4 linked regions of the Homo sapiens genome follow. The protein of the gene in region 4 purifies or fractionates together with the protein of the main gene of each other region. This does not show direct contact. Each region holds a gene or a part of one and is shown on either strand. Other genes may lie near its edges.

What was found.
Region 1: the proteins of ZHX1-C8orf76 (region 4) and BORA purify together in Homo sapiens (affinity purification with mass spectrometry; one large-scale study listed by BioGRID and IntAct). This does not show direct contact.
Region 2: the proteins of ZHX1-C8orf76 (region 4) and ATG4C purify together in Homo sapiens (affinity purification with mass spectrometry; one large-scale study listed by BioGRID and IntAct). This does not show direct contact.
Region 3: the proteins of ZHX1-C8orf76 (region 4) and PANK4 purify together in Homo sapiens (affinity purification with mass spectrometry; one large-scale study listed by BioGRID and IntAct). This does not show direct contact.

What each region holds. Positions count from the first base shown.
Region 1 is NC_000013.11:72,737,129-72,743,291, forward strand, and holds part of BORA (protein aurora borealis), read left to right. Parts: intron 1-833; coding exon 834-915; intron 916-6,163. UniProt on the Homo sapiens protein: Required for the activation of AURKA at the onset of mitosis.
Region 2 is NC_000001.11:62,786,149-62,792,311, forward strand, and holds part of ATG4C (cysteine protease ATG4C), read left to right. Parts: intron 1-6,163. UniProt on the Homo sapiens protein: Cysteine protease that plays a key role in autophagy by mediating both proteolytic activation and delipidation of ATG8 family proteins.
Region 3 is NC_000001.11:2,513,957-2,520,119, reverse strand, and holds part of PANK4 (4'-phosphopantetheine phosphatase), read left to right. Parts: intron 1-165; coding exon 166-319; intron 320-795; coding exon 796-977; intron 978-1,522; coding exon 1,523-1,604; intron 1,605-1,855; coding exon 1,856-1,956; intron 1,957-2,226; coding exon of another isoform or gene 2,227-2,238; exon of another isoform or gene 2,239-4,042; intron 4,043-4,402; coding exon 4,403-4,558; intron 4,559-5,653; coding exon 5,654-5,766; intron 5,767-6,030; coding exon 6,031-6,118; intron 6,119-6,163. UniProt on the Homo sapiens protein: Phosphatase which shows a preference for 4'-phosphopantetheine and its oxidatively damaged forms (sulfonate or S-sulfonate), providing strong indirect evidence that the phosphatase activity pre-empts damage in the coenzyme A (CoA) pathway.
Region 4 is NC_000008.11:123,224,774-123,231,032, reverse strand, and holds the end of ZHX1-C8orf76 (zinc fingers and homeoboxes protein 1), read left to right. Parts: intron 1-4,400; coding exon 4,401-4,560; 3' UTR 4,561-4,842; downstream 4,843-6,259. Other genes in the region: uncharacterized protein C8orf76, read left to right, coding at 4,401-4,533.

The sequences.
Region 1 (6,163 bases), on a different chromosome or scaffold from region 4:
AGAAATGAAAGAGGAAAGAAAAGTATACAAATGCTCTATCTCATTTGAATATACTGGCCAGTAGTGTGCTGGTGAATGTTTAACAACTTGCTCTCTGGTCGTGGAAGGAGTACGATTTATAGCGATTCCTGCTATCCATAGTGTAAGTACTCCAACCATGGCCAGTTTCAAGCTACTGATGTGACATCACTGAATGGGAAAGGAAGAATAGTGGCACACCATTATATGTAGGAATTCCACCATACAGATACAAAATACATTATTAACCTCAAGAGCATAGACATTGATAAATATATAAAATAATTAGCAAGTGGTGAGTTTTGGATATTTGTTACCTTTATTTTTAATATATTTAATTGTAAGTTTACATAATTTTATTTTTAATATTGGTTTTAACAACTGGTGCACAGAATTCTTGAAAATTTAATAATCAGATCTTGAGAGCCAGAACAAACAAGCCAGCTTCAGTGCCGTCATTCATACTGGCCTACTTGCATGTCTCTGTCTTAATATATTCCTTCCCTTTTCATCCTTTTTTTTGTAACCCCATCAAAAAAACCTGGGAAAGAAATTTAAAATACTTTGTCTATGATTAATCCTCTTAGTTTAGTTTGCAAGTTTCAAATTTAACTGGTTGATTTGAAGTATTAAGATTCCTCTTTATATATACTTTAAATTTCTTCCATTTTTCCTTTGGTCATTTGTATTAAAATTTTTGCATACAGTTATAAAGTTAGTATATGACATGTTTAATAATTACTTGGAAAAACACAGGTACCGTCTCACATTTTGGGTGGAATTTATGCCTAATTGTATGACTTTAATTTTCCTAGTTTTTCACTAAAGATGTCATCGTACCCTCTCCTTGGACTGATCATGAAGGGAAACAGCTTTCACAATGTCATTCCAGTAAATGTGAGTGTACTAAAAATGATATGAATAAAAATCAAAAAAGTCGGTGAATATAAAGCAACATATCATGAAGTGCCAGTATATCTGCTTTGTAAGAAGCTTGCTTTAAAATTCTGGATAACATAGAATTTAACTCCTTTTAGGGTTAGAATTAAAAATTTGACTAAAATTTATTGAATTGTTTTTTAGCTGTTATACTCTGAATTTAACTTTTTCTTCATGACTATTGTGAATGTCAGTTATAATGATGGTTATAGAGGATCCATAGATGAAGAAATAGTTGGTATTGAATATAGAGATGAGTTGTTAATGACTTTAGCAGTATTTTGAAGGTTAATATTTTAGATAAAACCGTAAATTGTGTTGCCTTTTGCTAATTTGCTGATTTCTTATAAAGGTAAAGAAAGGATGAAGACTTAATATGACCTCTGGGACAGTGTATTATTGCTGAGTATCTGCAAAATTAATAAGGAAATTAAAGGGCAAGCCAGTAAGCTAACAATTATCTTTCTACCTCCAGGCAATGGTTGTCATATATTTGTTCTCACTGCTCTTTGGGTTGTGAGGCAGTATTCAGGAATCACTTGTATATATGCATCCCTCATCACAGTGGAATTACACTGTCTATTGTAGTATACCTTAATTATGCTCTCAGTATAAGAGGGAATGTTTGTTCCATTCTTTATCAAAAAACACAACATAATAATACAACAATAATAGGTAAGCTGGGTTAGTACTTTCTCTATGCCAGGACAGTGCTAAGTGCTTTCAGTAATTTCTTATAACTCATATGAAGTAGGTGTAATTATTGGCCCCATTTTATAGGTAAGAAAACCTAGTTTTAGAAAGATGAGAGCATTTGTCCAGGGTTACAGAGATGATAAAAGTGGGAAAACCTGAATTCAAAATTCTCAAATCAGATGCTGTATTCTTAGCCATTATGAATTAGTGGTAGCACGCAATAGTAGATGGAAATCTGGATTGTAAAACCTCCTACTTTTATAAACCAGAGAGGTGACCTTGATCAAATTATTCTCTTTGTACCTCAGTCTTTTATTTGTGAAATAAAAGGATTGAACTAGAGTTGTCCATTTACATCCCCCCAGCTCTAAAATTGTGTGTCCAAGGTGGCATTCTCATAGATACTAGTTTTTCACCCCCAGATTCTTTACTGTTGGATTTTTTCAACAGATGAATCAACCTTCTTAAGTGATTTTTTAAATAACATTTTTGTATTCCAAGTATCCTGTTTTAGTTCAAGTGATGCAGGATCAAGAAGATGCTTAAAAACACTTTAGACTCTTTGAAATCTAATCAAGCCCACGATAACAGTGCAGTGGTTAATAGGATAGGCTCCAGAGCTGTGCTGTTTACTGTGTTGTTGGGAGACAATTCTCCATAGGCCTCACATTTCTGCACACCTTTCATGAAGTGGCATGGACAAGTTCTGTTCCAAACTATCTTTTCTAGGGTGTTTGTCTTGGAAGGTAGAGATAGTGTGTCCCACCAGAGCAGAGGGTAAGTTTGTTTTGCTGTCCAGTATAGTAAAGATGATGTCTCCCTCTGGAGCAGATTTGTTTGCAGTCTCTCTTAAAAGAATGGGATTTCCTAAGCTTGGGGTTCCTTAGCTATGGTGAAAACCCATTGTGTGTCCACCAGCCACCTGGGTATTTTAATTTAGAATCTTTTAAGATAGAGAGCACTCCTCCCATGATTAGGAGAGACACAAGATGGAAATAAAAATTTTATTACTTACAAGTCCTAGGGGTACACAGCATACCTGAACACCACACAGGGAGGTCAGGAAGAGAGAGAAAGGGACCCATGGGCCAACGCCTTTATTGGGTCCAGGGCATTATCCAAACAGAGTTTTAGTTGGTGGGTTTAAAGCAAGCAGGCATGCATTGAGGAGGTCACACAGTGACTGAGAGATAGTCACTGTGGCATGTCTGTGTAGTCCATGTGCGGTATGAGGGTTGGGGGGTCAGTCAGGTAGGCCATATGTAGATGGCCCATAGGGAGGTGGTTACCAGGAGGAATTTATATAAGGCAGATATCTGGATCAACCACATTGAGGTATAGAACTGGAAACTGTGTCGGGTGAATGAGCCCTGCTTTTTGTATGAGAAAGTCCAGCTTGTATGCAGAATTATAAGAATTCACTGCACTGGACTGTTTCATGTCATCTTCTTGGCACTTGGGAGCAAAGGGAATTAATAGGAATGTTAAGTTCATGCTGCCTGCTGTGCTGAAAATAATAAAGTCCTTTATCTCTGCCCCCAGAAGCCTCATGTCTTTAGCCAGCACCAATGGAACTTTGACATGTTCACCTGTTAGTTGCCAAGTTGGGTAGAATCTTAGACCCTTTATAGTTCTTGACAGTTGTGGCCACGTGTGACTATTTAAATTTAAAGTTAAATTTAAAAATGGAGTTCCCCATTCACAATATTCACATTTCAGGTGCTCAATAGCCATGTGGATATCGAGTAGTATAGATAGAGAACATTCCCATCATCACAGAAAATGTTCTATTGGATGCTACTTTAGGGCCAAGGTTGGCAGCCCTTAAGTGTAAAGGATTCAATAATAAATACTTAAGCCTTTACTGACCACACAACCTCTGTTGGAACCACTCCACTCTACTGCTGTACCACAAAAGTAGCCGCTGACAATATGTAAATGAATGTGAGTGTGTACCAGTAAAACTGTATTTAAAAAAATAGGTGAAAGGCCAGATTTGCACCATGAACAATAGTTTGCTGACCCTTACTCTAGTGTAATATTATCTAGGTTTGAATTGTACCCAGTAAAGCTCACTAGCTGTGTGACTTTAGATGAGTTACTTAGCTTTTCTGTGCCTCAGTTTCCTTATCTATAAAATGATGGTTATTGTGGTACCTCTAAGATAATGTACCTAGCACATGGTGTTTGGTTATCTACCTAAAGATTAACAAATAAAATGGTGAATGAGGGGAAAAGTGGTTTTGTTTATACATGTTAGCTTGTGCTGGTAGCATTTACTATTATTAATATTTATGCAGCAAGGTGCTTCAGTGCATATCCTCATGTGTTTTTATTTATGGACTTGAGTGAGAATTTCCCTGGGATATATACGCAGGTAGAGGATTTCTGAGTTATAGAATATATCGTTACCTAATCTGACTACACAGTATTAGAGTGCTCTCTAGAATATCTGCACAGTCTGCACAGCCCCAGCAGTCCCTAGGGTTCCTGTGTCCCAGCATCCCTGCCTGCCCTTGGCATTATCCAGCTTTTACATCTTTGCCTTTCCTATAGGTTATTTGACATTCTAAATGATTGTTTCAGTTTTCTTTTTGTCTTCATAGACTAATGACCTTTTACATTTCATAGAAAATGTCTATTTGTAATTCATTGATATGTTTCAATTGGAGTTGCTAACCTTTTTTTTCCTGTTAATTTCTAAGATACCTTACATATTGTGGTTATATTGGTCTTAAACATTTCAAATGTTATCTCCCATTCTGTCATATGTATGTTACTCTTTGTTCTTGATATCCTGGGTTGCATAGAAATTTTTATTTTGGTGCAGTCAAATCCATCGATTTTTTTTTTTCCTCATTTGATTGTGGTCTTAAACTTGTCTAAGCCCTTCTAGGGGAAGCAACCAAAACACTTGGAATAGAGTTGAAAAGTGATGTGATAATGTTGCTGTAGGTGTCTTTCTGGTCTGAGGAAGGCAAGGAAGGCATGCTGGCAGAAGATAAAATTTAAGCTGAGATTTGAGTTAGACTCTTGGAATGCAGGGGAGAAAAGGCAGGGAGGAGAGAGCATAAGATAATACCTAGAGATGAGAGAGATACCTGTTTCTTGTTTGTTTGTTTTAGGTACTCAAATAATATTTAATTAGATGGCAACCATGCTAGAGAAATAGACATGGTTTTGAAAGGCTTTGTAAGCCATTGAGGTGTTTGGATTTTATCCTAAAGACTATTGCAGGGTTTTAGGCAGAGAGAGTATTGATTACATCTGCCTTATAGAAGGTCACTCTGCATGCAGTGACAAAGTCATCTGCATCCAAAATTTTCTTTATTTACCCGTTTTGATAGTATTTCACAGGGAAATTTAATTTATTCAGCAACCCACTTACCCATTTTAAAATTTAGAATTGTTAGGTTACTACACTCTATTTTGTCATTTTATTTTAGAATTCCTGAGTTGTTTCTGGTTTTGGGGGGAGGGGGGGTTTGTTTGGTCCCCTTGCTTTTTCTTCCTTTTATCTTACTTATATTAGTCTTTTTGAGATGGTTTTGGTTTTTGAGTTTTTTTAATCTGGTGATTTTTCAATTTATAAAACTTTAGAGTTAAAATAATTTGCACCCATATTTTTAACTCTTCTTGTGAAAGAAACTATATGGTTTTATTGATCAAATTTCAGGTTTTGTCAAAATAATCTGGCATTTTAATCTGTTGAGGACATTGAGGGTAGCTAAAAGGTATCCCTAACCTTTTAAGGTTGACGTCATGAAGAGTAATCATCATTTCCTTAAAAAAAAAACATTACTTTGGGATTCATCAGTCCTACTACTGGGTATTTATCCAAAGGAACCAAAATTACTATTTCAAAGAGATACCTGCACTCTCATATTTATTGCTGCATCGTTAATCACAACAGCCAAGATATGGAGTCAACCTAAGTGTCCATCAACAGATGAATGGACTTTTTAAAATGTGATATATATATATATACACACACACACACACACACACACACACACACACACACACACACAAAATGGAATACTATTCAGCCTTAAAAAAGAGGAAATTTTGTCATTTGTGACAACATATATGAATCTAGAGGACATTATGCTAAGTGAAAAAAGCCAGCCACAGAAAGACAAATACTGAATGATTTCACTTATATGTAGAATCTAAAAAAGTCAGACTCTTAGAAGTAGAGAATAGAGTGGTGGTTACCAGACGGTAGGGAGGAGGGGTGGTGGGGGAGATGTTGGTCAAAGGGTACAAAGTTTCAGTTAGACAGGAGGAATAAGTTCTGGTGATCTGTTGCACAGCCAGGTAACTATAGCTGATAATGAGGTATCATATAGTTCAAAATTGCTGAAAGTGGATTTTAAATGTTCCCACCACAAAGAAAAGTATTTGAGGCAATGGATATGTTAATTAGCTTGATTTGCTCTTGTCATAGTGTATACATATATTGAAACATCACATTGTACCCCATAAATGTATACAATTATTTAAAGAA
Region 2 (6,163 bases), on a different chromosome or scaffold from region 4:
TTCAGTTCTTTTCGACTCTTCCCACTGTACAACAGCTGCAAGGATCTGTGCTCTATCCTGAAATATATAAAGAGCGTTAAATCAACATATGCTTACTGAGCAGCTATTCATACCAGACACTCTTCAAGGTGCTGGGGATATAGAGTGAACAAGAAAAGTCCCTGCTCTTAGGGAGCTTATACTCTAGCAGAATGTATGAGATGTAAACTTTCCCTTCAAGAAGCAGAAAATATAGTCAATATGTATTAGATTTTACGGGAGTGTTTTAGAATGTTAAAGGTGAGAAGAGAGATAACTAGGGAATGTTTCATGAAGATGAGATCTAATGTGGAATTTAAATAGTGGTTAGGGATTGGTAGGTAGAAATTAGGACCCTGTCTCAAAAAAAAAAAAAACAAGTGAAAATCTGTGATATAGAATAATTGGTGAGCCTTATAAAGCACTTTATTTTTATTTTTTGGACTATATATAAGTAAAATTGTAATATTTGACATGCATTCAATCATTTAGCATTTATTTATTAACTAGACACTCTTCTAGGCCACAGTGGTATAGTAGTGAGTAAATACGGTGTTTACCCTCATAGAATTTACTAACAGAGGAGGCAGACATAAATCAAATAGTCAAAGAAATTTAAAGTTACAACTGTGGTAAATGCTATTAAAAAAGGACTTGATGTTACACAGAGGAAGAACTGATTACAGAGGGGATAAGAGTGGGGATGGGGAGAGGCCAGTTAGAAGATTGTTGGAGTGGCCCAATTGAGAGATGGTATTTTGGACAAGGTGGTGGTGGTAAGATGGATTCCAGAGGTGTTCAGGAGGTGGAACTAGGCGATGGATTAGATATGGAAGGTGAGGGAGAGGAAGATATCATGGGCTAATCTTAGGTTTTTGGCTTATATAACTGGAAGGATTGTTGCACCCTTCACCGAGGTAGAGAACATCGAAAGAGGACCAGGTTTGGGAAACATGCTTTGTTTATTAGTATTTTTTGTTGTGGTAGCAGTGTTTAAGGTTAATTTCTTAGTTATTTTTACCCTTTTGTGTCATTGTTGTAGTTTTGTATATTTGAGTAATACTATGCCTAAAATAGGTTTTTTTGGTATCATTTTTTCTTGATTGAGCAGGGGTGGGGTTCTACATGAAAGCATCTGGAAATATGTTGGTCTCTGTTTTGAATCTATCTGTAATATATTAAACCATGTATATGAATAGGTAACTGAATAATGCAGTTACATGCCATCTTTATTTTCACTTGAGATTTGGTAGTAAACTGGCATCTGGTTAAATTCTAACTTCATTCATTTGGTACATACATAAATATACATGCATTAGGGAAAAATACATACTTGTGATTTTTCTCTGAAATGCTTCATTCATGTAATTTTTGATAGATATTGAACCCAAACAGTAGTGATTTATAGTTTATTGTTTAAATTTTACATTTCTTAGTAAAGTGGTAGAGTGTATAGAGCAAAGAGACTTTGGTGTCAGACTGCCTGGATTCATGGTCTCTATTTGCTGTATACTAGCAGTATGACCTTGAAGAAGTTATACAGCTTTTCCAAGCCTTTTTTTTTTTAAATTTATAAGATGAGGATAATAATAGTGCCAGCCTTATAGAATTGTTGTGAGAATTAAATGAAATGATATATATACATAGGTTAATAAAATACTTGGTACAGATTTTAAGTGTTTATTATCATTATTATAATAGTGATACTGGGTTCAAGATCATCTTGACTCCTGTGACACCATTTTAATTTTAGGATACCTTGTAACTAATAAAACTCAATTTGAGAAAAAAAATTTATTTGGTATTTAGATTTGGAGAAAATATATAAAATAGTTTTGCTTATTCACTATTGTCCCAGATACACCAGCACATAACATCTTTCACAGAGTTCTGAGATTATGTGTAGTTTACAGCTGTGATAGAAAACTTATGGTGATTAGTTTGTGATTACTTATTGTTTGTTAGGATTATTACCTTTATTTTTAGCCAAACCTTTTCGAAGTTTGAACTTGCTTTTAGCTCTTATTGAATAGGGTGAAGAGTAGTTAGGCTTTATGAAGTCTGATCAGCTGCTCTAAAATCAACCTAACTTCTACTTTTTCCCTTATTTTTTTCTTTTTACTTTCAAACCTGTAAAAACATTGAAATGGTAGTATGACAAATACCTGTACATCCTTTTACCTAGATTCACTAGTTGTTAACATAGTGCCTCTTTTGCTCTCATTCCTTGCTGTTAGACAAGTGCTGTTTCTCTCTCTATAAATACACACACACACACACACACACACACACACCTTTTTTTCTTGCTGAACTATTTGAAAGTAAGGTGGCAACGTGACACTTTACCCCCAAATAATTCATCATGCATCTCCTAAGAACTAGCACATTCTCTTATATAACTATAATGCCATTAGCATATCCAAATAATTTAACCTTGATATGATAATATTGTCTAATATGCAGTCCATATTCAACAATTAGATTTTTCCAAATATCCCAGTAATGTCATTATACCATTACAAAAATACCGAATCCAATTAAAGACATTAATTGTATTTAGTACTTATATGTCTATTTTATCTAGAACAGTCTTTATCATTTCTTTCTTTTTTTGTCTTCAGGTAGAATGCCTCACAAAATTGATTTATCTGATTTTTTCCTCACAATGAGTTTCAGATTGAAGAGTTGTGGGTTTTTCTTTTTTTTTCTTTTTTCTTTTTTTTACTATTACATGGGTGATGTTTTGAACTTTCCATTTAATCATATTAGGATTAACATGATCGTTTATTCCATTATTGGTGATTAAGTTTGATCACTTAGTTTAGCCAGATTTTTATATTCCGAAAGTATGTTTTCCCTTTTGTATTTAGTAATCTGTAGGGGTGATAAATTGAGGTCATGTGGATATTCTGTTTTGCAGGTTTTGTTTTCCTATCCAGTGATTTTAGTAGCCATTGATAAAAGCATTGGTGGTTGCCAAATAGTGATTTCCCACTTCTGTCATTCCTACATGTATTTGCTGGCTCTCTTCTCTAAATAAGAGCTTTCTCTTTTTTATTTTAGTATCACTATGTACCCAAGTATCCTTTTTTTCAAAATCTATGCAGTGCGTTATAATTTGCTACCATCATTCCTTTTGGTGATGAAATTATCTCAAATCTGGTCAGTAGTAGATCCTTCAAGCTGGTTCCCATGAACTTTGGATATGTCCACATTGGTGTTTGAGCACTTTCTTACTCCTATTTGCACAATAAGATGTTCCAGCCTCACCTTGTAAATTTCCTGCTCAATACATGGAATCAGCCATTTTACCACAGAGTCCTGGTTTATTTTAGTGGAAAATGATTCTTAGAAACCAAGATCTGGGCCGGGCGTGGTGGCTCATGCCTGTAATCCCAGCACTTTGGGAGGCCGAGGCGGGTGGATCATGAGGTCAGGAGATCGGGACCATCCTGGCTAACACGGTGAAACCCCATCTCTACTAAAAAATAAAAAAACAAATGAGCCGGGCGTGGTGGCGGGCGCCTGTAGTCCCAGTTACTAGGGAGGCTGAGGCAGGAGAATGGCGTAAACCCGGGAGGCGGAGCTTGGAGTGATCCGAGTTCGCGCCACTGCACTCCAGCCTGGGCGACAGAGCGAGACTCCGTCTCAAAAAAAAAGAAATAAAAGAAATGAAGATCTGGGTATTGAATATGCTCTTTGCTACTGGGGTGTCATTGGTTCTAGACCCTTTAAATGGACACACATATACACTTTTTTTTTTTTTGAGACAGTGTCTTGCTCTTGTTGCCCAGGCTGGAGTGCAATGGCGGATCTTGGCTCACCGCAACCTCTGCCTCCTGGGTTCAAGCGATTCTCCTGCCTCAGCCTCCCGAGTAGCTGGGATCACAGATATGTGCCACCACACCCAGCTAGTTTTGTATTTTTAGTAGAGACAGAGTTTCTCCATGTTTGTCAGGCTGGTCTCGAACTCCGGACCTCCGGTAATCCACCCGCCTCGGCCTCCCAAAGTGCTGGGATTACAGGCGTGAGCCACTGTACCCGGCCAACATATACATTTTTTAAGAAATCATGAGTTCATAGGATACCTTCAATTCAAATTCAACACTGCAGAGTTCTCATCACTTCCTTCCAATTCCTGTTTATATCTCTGTTTTCCCAAAGAGAGAATTCTGATTCTCAATTATATCACTATTTTTACTCATCTAACCTATCCTACAACACACATAAAATAGTTTTGGAATTACTAGACTGACTGATACCGCTTCCAGCAACAGATTTACCAAGTAAAGATTTCTTTGCCATTTTATGTTCTTAGAATATATCCCACTAAAGGTATATATAGTCAAAATAGGTGTTCAAAGTTATTTGAATTATTTTTTCTGTGTGATTATGTTATGAATGTAAAATATAGTTAGGTTCCTACTAAATTACTTTTTAATATACTCTTTGTAAAATCAGTTATCTGTAAAACTACTAAAGTGACATAATTTAAAACTTTGTAATATATAGTTATAGAGAACTCTAGAACAGTTATATCAGCTGGAGAATATTAAGTTTTAAGACTTGTAAGCTCTAAACTTGTAGCTCTATTTTTTCAGTTATAATGATATTTAAAATTAGGAGTGCAAGAAAAGTGACATCAAGTGATTCCATTTGTAAACCAAAACAATTGTGTTTGTGAACATTTTAAACAATGCTCTTCTTTTAACTGATGATACAATTCAAGCATTAATCTTTAACAATAGACATAATTGTTGGGGGTACTTTAACTAATTCCCAAGTAATAGGTCTAATGTTTTCCTGTATTTATAACCAGAATGGAAAGATTTATGTTTTTTGTTAAGTCCTTCTTTGTATTTGAAGAATACTTGTTGTGACTGTATTTTACCCTGTGATATTATTCATGTGTGAATATTCTCATTGGAAAGGGGGAAAATATGTCTCTTAATAGTTATGATACTTTATATCTCTATTGTGAGATATAACCACATTCAGCCTTATGGTTAGTTATAACCATTTTGCTTATTAGAATGTAAGATTAATGAGGGCAGATACTGGGTTTCATGGCTCATTGTATCTCCCTCAGTGCCTTGTAGGAGTAACCACTCAAATACTTGATGAATAAATGTGATATTTTGTGTTTAAATTACATGTAGTACTAGCTTCAGTAATATGGATGCACCTTTTTCTTGGCAAGAGTAACTAATATAATGGGTCTTGGAAATGGTCTTATCCATTGTCGTAGTCTGTCTTTCATTGCTTATAACAGAATAACTGAAACTGGGTAATTTATGTAAAAAAGGAATTTATTCCTTATAGTTAACAAAAGCTGAAAAGTCCAAGGTTGAGGAGCTACATTTGGTGAGGGCCTTCTTGCTGGTGGGGATTCTGCAGAGTCCTGAGGTGGTGCAGGGCATCACATGGTGAAGGAGCTAAACACACTAGCTCCAGTCTCACTTTCTCTTCTTGTAAAGCCACCAGTTCCACTCCTCTGATAACCTGTTAATCCATTAATCCATGAGTGAATTAATTTATTTATGAGGGCAGAACCCCAGTTACCCAGTCATCTCTTAAAGGCACCATGATAACATTCATATTTACTTATTACATACCTCAAAATCACTGTATCTTAAACTGAATTTCCTATCTTCACCTTAGTCTTCTCTACTTGGGTTCCCTGTTTCAGCTAATGGAACCATTATGCTCCTAGACATTAGACCTGAAATCTCATAGTCACTTTAGTCTCCTCTCTGGTATGTGGGCATATACACATCCATATATTTGTATGATGTTGCTCGGTCTACCATGTCAACTTGCTACTTTTATCTACTCTTTTCTTTTTTTTTAAGATGGAGTCTTGCTTTGTCGCTCAGGCTGTCGTACAGTGGCACAATCTCGGCTCACTGCAACCTCTGCCTCCGGGGTTCAAGCAGTTCTCTGCCTCAGCCTCCTGAGTAGCTGGGATTACAGGCACCCACCACCATGCCCGGCTAATTTTTGTATTTTTAGTAGAGACAGGGTTTCACCAACTTGGCCAGGATGGTCTTGAACTCCTGACCTCGTGATCCACCCGCCTCGGCCTCCCAAAGTGCTGGGATTACAGGTGTGAGCCACCACGCCCGGCCTTATCTACTCATTTCTA
Region 3 (6,163 bases), on a different chromosome or scaffold from region 4:
GGTGGCCCGAGGGTCCCGCTTGCCGCCTCCTGCCTTTGGTCCCACGCGATGAGGGCCCATTTACCCCCTGCCCGCGCGTGCCTCCTGCCATGGGCTTGGTTTCTGGGGTCGTGGGGATTCCAGCAGCTCCTGGCGCCTCACCCGCCCCCTCGCCGTGTCCTGCAGAAGTTTGACGAGCTCCTGCACCTGGCCTCGAGGGGCCAGCACAGCAATGTGGACATGCTGGTGCGGGACGTCTACGGCGGCGCCCACCAGACTCTCGGGCTGAGCGGGAACCTCATCGCCAGCAGCTTCGGGAAGTCGGCCACCGCCGACCAAGGTGCTCACCCCGGCCTCTGCCGCCAGAGAGCAGGATGGTGGGGACACTTGGGGTCTCACGGACAGGAGCTTCCCCCACCATTGCTTTCCCACAACTGCTCCCTGGAGAGTCGGGGTCTTGGGTGTCAGCCCTGTAACCTCTTCCTGCCGAGTCGCTGCAGCTCAGGCCCACTGCTCAGAACGTCGGCAGATAAACGCCACGGTCTTGGTTTTGGAAGAAAAAATAGTTTCCTGATTGGGTTTTTTCCTCCTTCAAAACAAAGCTTAATCCGTCCAGGAATGATTCACACATCACACGCAGCCTCCCGCACTTGGGCTCCAGTTCCCCCACTCAGCTCTCTCTCCCCCTCCCCTCCCACTCAGCTCTCTCTCCCCCTCCCCTCCCACTCAGCTCTCTCTCCCCCTCCCCTCCTGCTCGCTCTCATGTCGTGCACTTGCTGTACTTGGAGATGAGTGCCTTTTCCTTCCCTTCCTCAGAGTTCTCCAAAGAAGACATGGCGAAGAGCCTGCTGCACATGATCAGCAACGACATTGGGCAGCTGGCCTGCCTCCACGCACGGCTGCACAGCCTGGACCGCGTGTACTTTGGAGGCTTCTTTATCCGGGGCCACCCCGTGACCATGCGCACCATCACCTATAGCATCAACTTCTTCTCCAAGGTAACGGATGCGCCGCCCTCCCCAGCCTCTAACGCAGACCCCCCAGGATCTTCCCAATCAGTCATGCTGGTTAGACACCGCAGCACCCCCAGGGAGGCCTGGAGGGTGGGGGCCAAGAAGCCCAGCACCCCTCCCTTCTGACTGATTCTGGGCAGCCTACATTTTGTGGCACCGTGGCCACCTGAGTTTGAGTACATCACCAGTGATGAGCATTCTAGAGAGCTCCAGGCAGGCCTGCTGATCTGCGCTGGGGTCAGGGTGCCCCTGCCCCCGCAGAGGCACGCCCACCCACATGCCTGACGCAGAGACTTGTGGGCCAGGGACTCGCTGCATGGGAGAAGCTATCTCACCCTTAGCTTTCTTCAAACAGCAGCCCGCCCTCTGGTGCCAGGCGCGATTCCACTGGCAAGTATGCCGTGGGTGCCATGGCGCCTCTTCGAGGGTTTGGGCCGCGCGGTGCGAGGCCCGCGCACGTTGAGCTGGTTTGCGGAGGCACCGGGTGTTGTGTGGGGCCAACAGCAGCACGTGTGCTTTGGCCACGGCAGGGGGAAGTGCAGGCGCTGTTTCTGAGGCACGAAGGCTACCTGGGAGCCATCGGAGCGTTCCTGAAAGGAGCTGAGCAGGACAGTGAGTCGCGGTGCTGGCGCCCCTGAGCAGCGTGGGGCCTCAGCTGTGGCCTGGGCCTGTGCTCCAGGCCAGGGCGGCCCAGGGTGGAGGTGGGGTGGGGAGCGTGAGTCCTCAGAAAGTGACAGCAGCAGGCATGTCTAACATTTTAACAATTTAGTTAATAAGCGATTTTATACCCTTTCCTCCTCCACTCTCCTGCTTTTGAATCAAGGGCAAGGTTAACACAAGTGACCTGGCTTCTTGCTTTCCAGATCCTAACCAGTACAGCTGGGGAGAGAACTATGCAGGCAGCTCCGGGCTGATGAGTGCATCACCCGAGCTCGGCCCGGCGCAGCGGGCGCGGAGTGGCACTGTGAGTAGTGGGCTCTGGCCGCCCCGGGCCCCAGGGGAGCAGCCTATGCCGCACTCACCTCGCCTGTCCCTGAGCGAAGCCTCTTGTGGCTGTCCCGGCTGAAAGGCGCCTCTGCCCATGGCGAATCCTCCCATGGACCTGGGGTATAACTAGGGGCAAGAGAAGGACACTGTGGCTTGCTTTCCCATCTCCCTCATTGGGTGCTTTCGTATTTTGGAAACATTCAGCAGGAATTACGGAGTCTGTGTGATCCGGCCTTCTTGTTTGCAGAGAGATTGCTAAAGTTCAGGGGTGACGGGGACCTCTCCCCACGCCAGAAGGCCCGTCCACTTTGGAGTTGAAACCCGAAACCGCAGGAGCCACCCAGGGCCCTGCCTAGGACTGCGCGCTCTGCCGCACACTGCCGCGCACTGTGGCTGATGGTCTGTCGGTTACAGTCTGCTCTCCTCGGGGTGTCCCGGCTCATTCCTTGGATCCCCAGTGGGTTTGCCCTGGCCTGAGCTGGGTGGCACTGGCGGGCTAGGAGACGCACCCCATGTCTGCCGAGTTGGAGCTGCTCCGGAAGGGTCCCCCGCCAGGACCTGCGTCAGCCACGGGATGCCCCCAGCACAGCCCCACATGGCAGGAACCGCCCCGTGTCACAGGCTGTCAGGGTCCTCGACCGTGCCCCCCCGCGGGGCTCATTCCTTCTGTAGCTGTGAGCAGTTAACCTGAGGTCACGCACAAAGCTAGTCGGACCCCTCAGGACAGGCCGCTGGCATTGTTGGCAGGAAGTTGCTTGTCATTTGTAGACATGGGGTTCAGTGTCAGTATTTTCAAGACCGCGACTTGTTGAGTTTTGGCTTCTCAGGAGGGCGCCTCCCTTTTGTGTGGGTCCTGCAGTTCACACCAGGCCACGGCCTCGCACAGACGCACCACACTGGCCGCAGCCCTGGTCTGCCTTTCCCACCGCCAGCACTAGGCAGGGGAGTGGGGGCGAGGCTCTGGGGGCCTGGCAGAGCCCCAGGCTCTCAGCTTTTGCCCTGCTGTTGGGCAGAGGGGCTTGGTGTCTTCCAGCCTCAGTTTCTGATTTGCCAAGTGTGCATAATTTGCCAAATGTCCTGGACTGTAACCTGGAGTGACTGCGTGGACGGCCACAGTGCTTCGGGGGCCCCGTTCAGGAGGCGCTTGTTACCTATTTGGTACCCCACCAGTGGCACAGCCCTGCCAGGCAGGAGGGGCCCCCACCTTACTGAGGATCAAACTGACATGCAGAGAGATGGAGTCATTTATTTCAGTTTATATTGTCCAAAAAAGTCAAAGCGAAGATTTGAACCCATTTGTCAGGATAGAAGGAGCCTGCGACCTGGCAAGGCAGCACCAGGCGATCCCGGCTGTGGTCCGTGGTAGTTAAGGTGGGGCTCCTGCCGCCTTCTGCACTGGCTTTGGGAAGTCACTGGCTTTTTCCACGTGGAGCTTCTGCCCGGCATGGGCTTCCCACCTGGAAGGCGTCCCCTTTGCTCTGGAGGTCCCTGCCCACCCAGAGGCTGCTTCTCCAGCCCCAGGGGTTGCCAGCAGGGGTGCCCCAGTGGAGAAGGGCAGAGGGCCAGCATGTGACCTGTGGGGTAGCCACCGGAGGGTGGGAAGAGGCGGTCAGCTACACAGTTCCCCTCATAGCCCCTCTGGTCCCAGAGCAGCGGCTGCTGCGGTGAGCGTGCAGAGAGCCGAGTACTGATGTGTGCGTCGGCTCAGTTCAGTTCACTTCCTCCCGGCATAAGGTAGAAAAAGCCAGCAGGGCCCGTGAGCGCGCCTGTGCTGGGTGCAGGTGGCCCCGGGGTGCCCTGGGTGCATAATGGCCTGGCCCTGCCATAGTCCTTCATGGACAGAACGTGCTGGGAGGCCCGGCAGCCATGGAGGAAGAAGGGTGCATGTGGGGCGTGGGGACTCCCTGCCCGGCACGGAGTGGAACACTGCCTGGTGCTTAGTGAGGACAGAACCCCAAACCTCTGTGTGCAGACACGGCCACCTGGAGGACCAGAGGTGGGAACAGTGTGACTGCAGGGGTCACGGGAGGAGGTGAAACTGTAGGGGTGACAGGGAGGGGTGACTGCAGGGAGGTGGTGATGGGGGAGGGAGTTACTATAGGGATGGTGGAGGAGGGGTGATGGGAGGGTGACTGCAGCGGTGATTGGGGAGGTGTGGCTGCAGCGGGGAGGTGCTGGGGGCAGGAGGCGTGTGGTGGGAGCAGACGCAACCCCAGTGTCAAACCAGGGGGTAAGTCAAGGTATCCGGCTCAGGCCGCCGGGCAGCTGAGGGGGCCCAGTGGGGGTCTCGTCTGTGGCCCAGAGACGTGGCGGAAGAAGGCAGTACATCTCCCTTCTTAGAGAGAGAGTGGAAGCTTCTGAGTGTGGCTTGGGTCGTTCTGAACCATGGTGACGTTTCCACCCTGCCACTGCCTGTCTTCCAGTTTGACTTGCTGGAAATGGACCGGCTGGAGAGGCCACTGGTTGACCTGCCGCTCCTCCTGGACCCGCCCTCCTACGTGCCCGACACGGTGGACCTCACCGATGACGCTCTGGCCCGAAAATACTGGCTCACCTGCTTTGAGGAGGCCCTGGACGGGGTGAGGGCTCCGGGTGCCGTCTAGACGATTCCAAGGCCGCAGCCGGGTTAACCTTCCAAGGCTCCGGGGGCAAAGCCAAGGTGGCGAAGGGGGACAGGCCAGTGTTGTCCAGAAACCCCTTGATCTGCGTCTGAGTGAGGGGGCGATTTTGGTTTCTCAGGCAAAAATACCGCTCCTGGCCACCTGGTGGGTCAGTGAGGACGTGGCGTCTGCGAGGCACGTTGCTTCTAAGGGCAGCTGATAGTTCTGCTAGCTAGCACATTCCTTCAAAAAGCAATTTAGGAGACGTCTCTGCTCTTTTGAGGTGTGACTGAGGTGCGGGAGGCATTGTGGGACCCTGACTCTGGGGGTGGGGTGAGACTCAGCCCCAGCAAGCTCCCGGCGAGGCCACCTTGGGACTCCTGCGTCCCACCTTCTCCAAGGCTGGGCTGGTCCCGTGGAGCAAATGCCAGGCCCTGGGCCACGCTGCCCCTCAGGAGCTCAGCTCGGGGCCAGGGAGCCCCGGTAGCAACACGCACTCTTCACGAAGCCCTCGGAGAGGCCGGGTCGTGCCAGGGTTTGTCCTGAGGGAGGAGTCCCAGCCCTGCCCAGGACCCGGAGTGAGCTCTGAGTGCCCAGAGCCCCTCGTCCCCGGCACAGGATGGGGGCTCGAGTCTGAGGACGTGGGTCTTGGCCTCGGGTTTCCTGGGGGGTGAGGGACCAAGGTCACTCCTGCTCCTGCCTCCCAGGGCAACTGGGAGGGGCGAATGGCAAAGGGAAGCCTCGGGTGACCGTGAACTGTCACCGTCAGCCTTTCCTGTTCCAGTAGAAACTGCCCTGACCACAGCCCAGGCAGCCCCCACCCTGCCCGAGTCCCCCACAGCAGGCCCTGACCCTGCCCCGGGAAGCCCCCCATAGCTAGCCCCCACCCTGCCCCAAACAGCCCCCGACAGCCGGCTCCCACCCTGCACCAGGCCTCCTACAGCCGCCCCCACCCTGCCCCAGACAGTCCCCCACGGCCGACCCCCACCCTTCCCCGAGCCCCCTGCTGTCACGTGGGGATTCGCAAGCAGCAGGGCCAGCGCTTGACTAACCCCCTCCTTCTGTCGCTGGCAGGTAGTGAAGCGCGCAGTGGCGAGCCAGCCAGACTCTGTGGATGCAGCCGAGAGGGCGGAGAAGTTCCGGCAGAAGTACTGGAACAAGCTTCAGACCCTGAGGCAGCAGCCCTTGTAAGTGCCCAGCACCCCGGTGTGTGGCCACCTCTTCCATCCAGAGGGCCCCTGCACCTCTGAGAAAGTGCCGTGATGTTGGCATTCGGACCCCAGCTCGCTGGGGGTGGGTGTGGGCCCTGGCGGCACAGCCCCCTTGGACCCCGCCTCAAGCAGCGTTTGCACTGCCGGGCTCCTGAGGACGTCCGTGGCACAGCCGAGGATGGCAGACGGGCGGGTGTTCGGCCTGCCCTGCTCAGCGCCCTCTGCCGTGTCTGTCCCCAGCGCCTATGGGACCCTGACCGTGCGCAGCCTGCTGGACACCAGGGAGCACTGTCTGAACGAGTTCAACTTCCCGGATCCCTACTCCAAAGTAAGTGCAGTGTGCCCTGGCCTTCCGCTCGCTCTTGTCCCCGTC
Region 4 (6,259 bases):
TGAGCTCACGAATTTGAGACCAGCCTGAGCAACATGGTGAAATCCCATTTCTACAAAAATTTTTTTTTGAAAAGTTAACTATGCGGGCCGGGCGCGGTGGCTCACGCCTGTAATCCCAGCACTTTGGGAGGGTGAGGTGGGTGGATCACAAGGTCAGAAGATCGAGACCAGCCTGGCCAACATGGTGAAACCCTGTCTCTACTAAAATACAAAAAATTAGCTGGGCATGGTGGCACGTGCCTGTAGTCCCAGCTACTCAGGAGGCTGAGGCAGGGGAATCGCTGAACCCGGGAGGCGGAGGTTGCAGTGAGCTGAGATCGTGCCACTGCACTCCAGCCTGGCGACAGGGCAAGACTCCGTCTCAAAAAAAAAAAAAAGAGTTGACCAGGCATGGTGGTGCGTGCCTGTAGTCCCAGTTACTCAGGAGGCTGAGATGGAATGATTGCTTGAGCCTGGGAGGCCAAGGCTGCAGTGAGCTGAGATCACACCACAGCACTCCAGCCTAGGCAACAGAATGAAACTCTCAGAAACAAAAAGGAATATAACCTGTGTCATTGTCCAAGATGGAATGTTAAGATTAGAAAACATTAAAAAATTAGGAAAATAAAAATGTATAAAACACTGAAAAAGGGAGAAGACATATTTTAAAGAAGGAATTTTCTGTTCGTATATTCCACAGAAATCTACTAAAGAAGAAAATTAGCTCTTGTATTTGAATTGCTGATAATGGGAGTAGATGATGCTTAATTCATTCTACAGAGAATTCCCATGGTTTGTGCCTAGGGATACCAAGTACTTTTTATCTTTAAAGTATGAGTTTGAGGGAAGGGTAGGGAGAATACACTTGACCAGTTCTATAAATGATGAGAGAAGAAGCAGACTCTCTCATGTTTCAAATGGTACCAAAGAATATACAGATTTTTTAACTCAGGAGGATTCAAGAAATATTAACAGTGAGGCTTACTGAGAAGTGGTATCTATTTGGCAAATTTTATTTTATTATTATTATTTTTTTTTTGAGACGGAGTTGCTCTTATTGCCCAGGCTGGAGTGCAGTGGTGTGATCTCCGCTCACTGCAACGTCTGTCTCCAGGTTCAAGCAATTCCCCTGCCTCAGCCTCCTGAGTAGCTGGGATTACAGCTGTGCACCACCACACCCGGCTAATTTTTGTATTTTTAGTAGAGACAGGGTTTCACCATGTTGGCCAGGCTGGTCTCGAACTCCTGACCTCAGGTGATCCACCCGCCTCGGCTTCCCAGAGTGCTGGGATTACAGGAGTGAGCTACCGTTCCCAGCTATTTGGCAAATTTTAAAATGTATTCAGTGGATGCTTGTTTAGATTGACCATGTCACTAATTCAGAGGCACATTGAATGACAACCGTGTGCCAGACATGTGCTTGGTGCTAGGATCACAAAGATCATTTAAAAAGCAGTCCCTTATGCCCCTCACTCACTCAGAGAAATGGTATGTCTAGCCTGTAACTGCCAGCACAGGTGCTAAATAGTATATCAGTGCTGTGACCAACGTCAGGGAGCTGTTGGCGTGGCCAAAAGAAGGAAGCCTTTACAGAGGGGATGATGCCTCTGCTGAATGGTCCCTGTAGGAACCCTTGTCAGTTGACTGAGTGCTAGATGCTTTGTATACATTATTTCATTTTAATCCTCATGACTCTGGGATACCTATTGGGATCCCACTAGATGGATCAGGAAACTATTAAAATCATTCCCAAAGTGGTGCAACTGTGAAGTGCAGGGCCAGGATTTGGAGCTGGTCTCTGATTCCAGACCCTGTATTCTTTCAGCTTATCTTGCTCACTCCACGTTAATATTCCCCACGTGGGAAGAGGCATGCTAGGTAAAAAGAAGGCACCGCCCAGAGGGGCAGAGGATCCGTTCTAGAACAGTGTTGTCACATTGTCTGGTGGTAAGAGCAGCATTGGTGGTAAGGGCTCAAGGTAGGCTGTGGCCACAGTGCCAGGGTGGCAGAGGAAGTAGGAAGTAGGACTTTGGCGTCAGAACTGGTTTTGAAGAACTTAGTCAATTGCTGATGCTAAGTGGATGAACCTGAACTCTTGCAAGCGGTCTGACCTTGCACACATTCCTTAAACTCTGCTCTCTAGTTGCTTAATCTTGACAGATGGAGAAATGGGGAAAATGCCTGCTTCCTGGGGTTGTAGAATTAAAGTATTTAAAGTACTTATTGTCCTGCATGGTATGTAGTAGGCATTTGGTAAATGTTAGATTAGTACTTTTATTTTTGTTGTTTTTATTGTTAACACAAGATGTTTGGTGTCACAAGGGTTTGGTCTTTGTGCCGAAGGCCTGAAGAGTATTTGCAGGTTTTAAATACAGGAGCATGTGATAAGACCTGTGTGTGTGTGTGTGTTTTGGGTTTTGGTGTTTTTTTTTTTGAGACGGAGTTTCACTCTTGTTGCCCAGGTGGGAGTGCAATGGCGCGATCTCGGCTCACCGCAACCTCTGCTTCTCAGGTTCAAGCAATTCTCCTGCCTCAGCCTCCCGAGTAGCTGGGATTACAGGCATGCACCACCATGCCAGGCTAATTTTGTGTTTTTAGTAGAGATGGGATTTCTCCATGTTGGTCAGGCTGTCTCGAATTCCCGACCTCAGGTGATCCACTGGCCTCGGCCTCCCAAAGTGCTGGGATTACAGGCGTGAGCCACCGCGCCTGGCCAAAACCTGTGATTTAGAGAGCTCTGGTGACTGCGATGCTGGATTAGAAGGAGGAGCTAAGGACTAGAGGTTGTAGAGTAATTAGTGGAAGATGATGAGGGCCTGACCTAGGCTGGTACAGTGGTAATAAAAAAAAGAAATGGATGTCACTGCACGATAGAATAGACAGGACTTGGTGACCAGCGGAGTGTGTGGGAAGGTTGAGGGTGAGGAGACCGGAAGAGTCTCTGCAGAGTCTCTCGAGGATGCACAGGTGGATGGTGGTGCCTTCCGCTGAGATAGGACATCTGGGAGGATGAGCAGAGCCGATTTGGGGTGGAAGGCAATGATTTTAGGCTTGAAGTACCGAGTCGCGGGTGCCTGGAGTATATCCAGAGGGCAGAAAGCAAGTTACATCAAAGGGGTAACGAAGGTGAATGCTTCCCGAGGCCGGGTAGGTGATGTCAACAGGTCAGACTGAAGCAGACAGATGATCATTTTACCTGTGAGTCAGGTCAGGCTCCTTTCTGAAACGCCCGGATGGCTTCCCATTGCACTTACGTCAATTCCGCATTTCTTTCCATGGCCTGCAAGGTCTGATTTGAATTGGCCCTGCTTTTTTTTCCCACCTCATTTACTACACATTTTTCTCTCTGACTGTGTTCCAGCCACAGTGATCTTAGTGATTTTCAAGCATATCAAATTTGTTCCTGTGTCAGAGCCCCCTTCTCCCTGGCCAAGCCCTCGCCACCAGATGTTCTCCCACTGGTTCCTCATCAGGTAGCTCGTAGCTTGCCTGGTATCTCAAGGAAGCCTTCCTGCCTATACCGCCGCATCTGAAGAGGTTACTGTGTCCACCCTGTCTTGGGTTTTTTTCCATAGCACTTGTCACTACCTGAAATACTTATGTGCTATCTCCCTCCTTCCATTCATTCCATGAGGCCACAAGTGTGTTTTGCTCATCAGTATCTCTCATTGCCTAGCGTAGTGTTGGGCATGTTCCACAGCATGGAGAGCCAGTGCTTCTGGGCATTGCAGTAGGTACCAGTGAGAAAAAAGGGGAAAATCTGCATATTGAGTATTTATTAAAAAAAAAAAAAAAAAGGAGCCAAATGAGGAAGACAGGAGGAAGTTAAATGAGAGAGGAGACCAGCTATGATCATGACAGGGAAGTCAGTGGTAAGGTATCGCAGAGTGGTTGTCAGAGGGTCATCAAAGATTTGGCCCTGCTTGGGGTAATTGAAGTGTGCTAGCGAATCTAATTAGTCCTTGCGGTCAAGTTGCTGTGGGGTCAGCGAGATGGAAGGGTCACAGAACACTGACTTCAAAGGAGCAAATCCAGAGGGCCTGTGTGAGAGGAGTCTGATTGGGAGGCTCGTTCCTTTCACTCCAAATTACTTATCCTTTCAATCCCTTGACTTCCACAGGAAGCTCTTTTGAGGCCGGAAGCTCTTTTCAGGTGTTGCTCTCTGAAGATTTCTTTGAGCAGTTTTAGTCTTTATATTTTAGAAAAGATGAATCTCCAATGTAAAGTTGGGCAATTGATTCCAAGTCGGAAGCTTTAGGGATTGAAATGATAGTTCTAGTGAGGGTGGGTACCTGCTTTTTAACCTGGTGGGACTTGCAGCCGACTCAATACCTGGGCTTTCTGAACATTTCCTCGCGGCTTTCCTTTATCTGGAAGCGTTGGGACTTTTCGCCACGCATTGAGACTTTTCGGTTTTTCAGGCTTCTGCTTCAGTTTACCCAACCTCAGCAAACATCGTTTGCTTTGGAGAGGAACTTAAGGACTCAGCAGGAAATTGAAGATAAAATGAAAGGGTTCAGCTTCAAAGAAGACACTTTGCTGTTGATAGCTGAGGTGAGTGTATCCCTCGGGTTTATGTGAAACGAAGCATCATAGATATTTTCCCTGGCTCTGATAGCATTTTTTATAAAGCAGGGCCAAATTTAATCTACTGAAGGACTTGTCTCCCTCCTCTGTGTGCCTTTTGATCACTCAGCAATCACCAAGGCGGCCTCTTGATCGGCATTCCCCTGCAGCGTGCGGGACCGCAGGGGCTGTGTTTCATGTACTTGTCAGTGCTTGTTAGCACCTGCCTGCCTGAACATCATCAATGCCCAATAATTGTTTGTTTCAGTGCTGAATAAATGAATGAATGAATGCTTACATTTGTGTAGCAGTTCTATTTTTTTTCCTCCATTCATCATAACAGCTTGTGAAGTTGAGTAGAGCTAGAATTGAGGCTCAGAGAACTTGTGACTTGCCTGCGGTCAGATTTTCAGTGGGAGAGCTGGTCTGGAGCTTGTGTTTGCCAGCTGCAAGTCCATTTTATTCCTGCTCTACCCTGTTACTACTTTGATGGTTGCATAGAAATTCAAAGGTAATTTTTTTTAAACTAACATGTAAACCTTCATTAACTTTTTTTTTTTTTTGAGACAGAGTCTTGCTTTGTCTCCCAGGCTGGAGTGCAGTGGCACGATCTCGGCTCACTGCAACCTCTACCTCTTGGGTTCAAGCGATTCTCATGTCTCAGCCTCCCGAGTAGCTGGGATCACAGGCATGTGCCACCACGCCCTGCTAATTTTTGTATTTTTAGTAGAGACAGGGTTCACCATGTTGGCCAGTCTGTCTTGAACTCCTGGCCTCAAGCAATCTACCCACCTCGGCCTCCCAAAGTGCTGGGATTACAGGCCTGGGCCACCATGCCTGATCTCTTCCTTTTACTTCTGAGAGGCTACACTGGTTTGTTTTTCTCCTGTGTTTCTTAACGTTCCTCTGCCTCTTGGGACTCAGCTGGTTTCTTCTGTAGCGTAAGTAATGGCATGCTAAAGATTCCCTTGGCCTCTCTGTTTTCTACTTTTCTGTCACAGAAATCATCACCACACCCCTAGGTTCCATTGTCACCTCTGGGTTGATTACTCTCCAGTCTTTATCTCTAGTCTCATCTCTGGGACATGTGTCTCACATCAGATTAATTGCCTACTAGGTGGTTAACCTGGGATAATTATTGATTACTCTTCTGTCACTTCAAGTACAAAATGTCTAAAATGGAACTACTCATCAGAACACTTCCTGTAATCTCAGCACTTTGGGAGGCCAAGGTGGGTGGATCACTTGAGGTCAGGAGCTCAAGACCAGCCTGGCCAACATGGTGAAACCCCATCTCTACTAAAAATACAAAAAACTAGCCGGTTGAGGTGGCAGGCACCTGTAATCCCAGCTACTCGGGAGGCTAAGGCGGGAGAATTGCTTGAACCCGGGAGGTGGAGGTTGCAGTGAGCCGAGATTGTGTCACTGCACTACAGCCTGGGCAACAGAGGGAGACTCCATCTCAAAAAACAAAACACAAAAAAACACTTCTGATCAGTCTTTTAATTCTCCCAAGTTCCACATCCTCCAGGAAGCTTTTCCGGAATATTCTGCTCTGTGGTCATTTCTCCTTCCTCTGAGCTCAGATAGTGATTGCTTGAATAGATAGCTCTTTGGGCCCTAAGAAGACATAAGAATGTATCTTATGTTTTCAACTAGATACTAGGTTCCTTATAAGTAATAGTATGTTTTGAGCATCTTTGTATTCTTCACC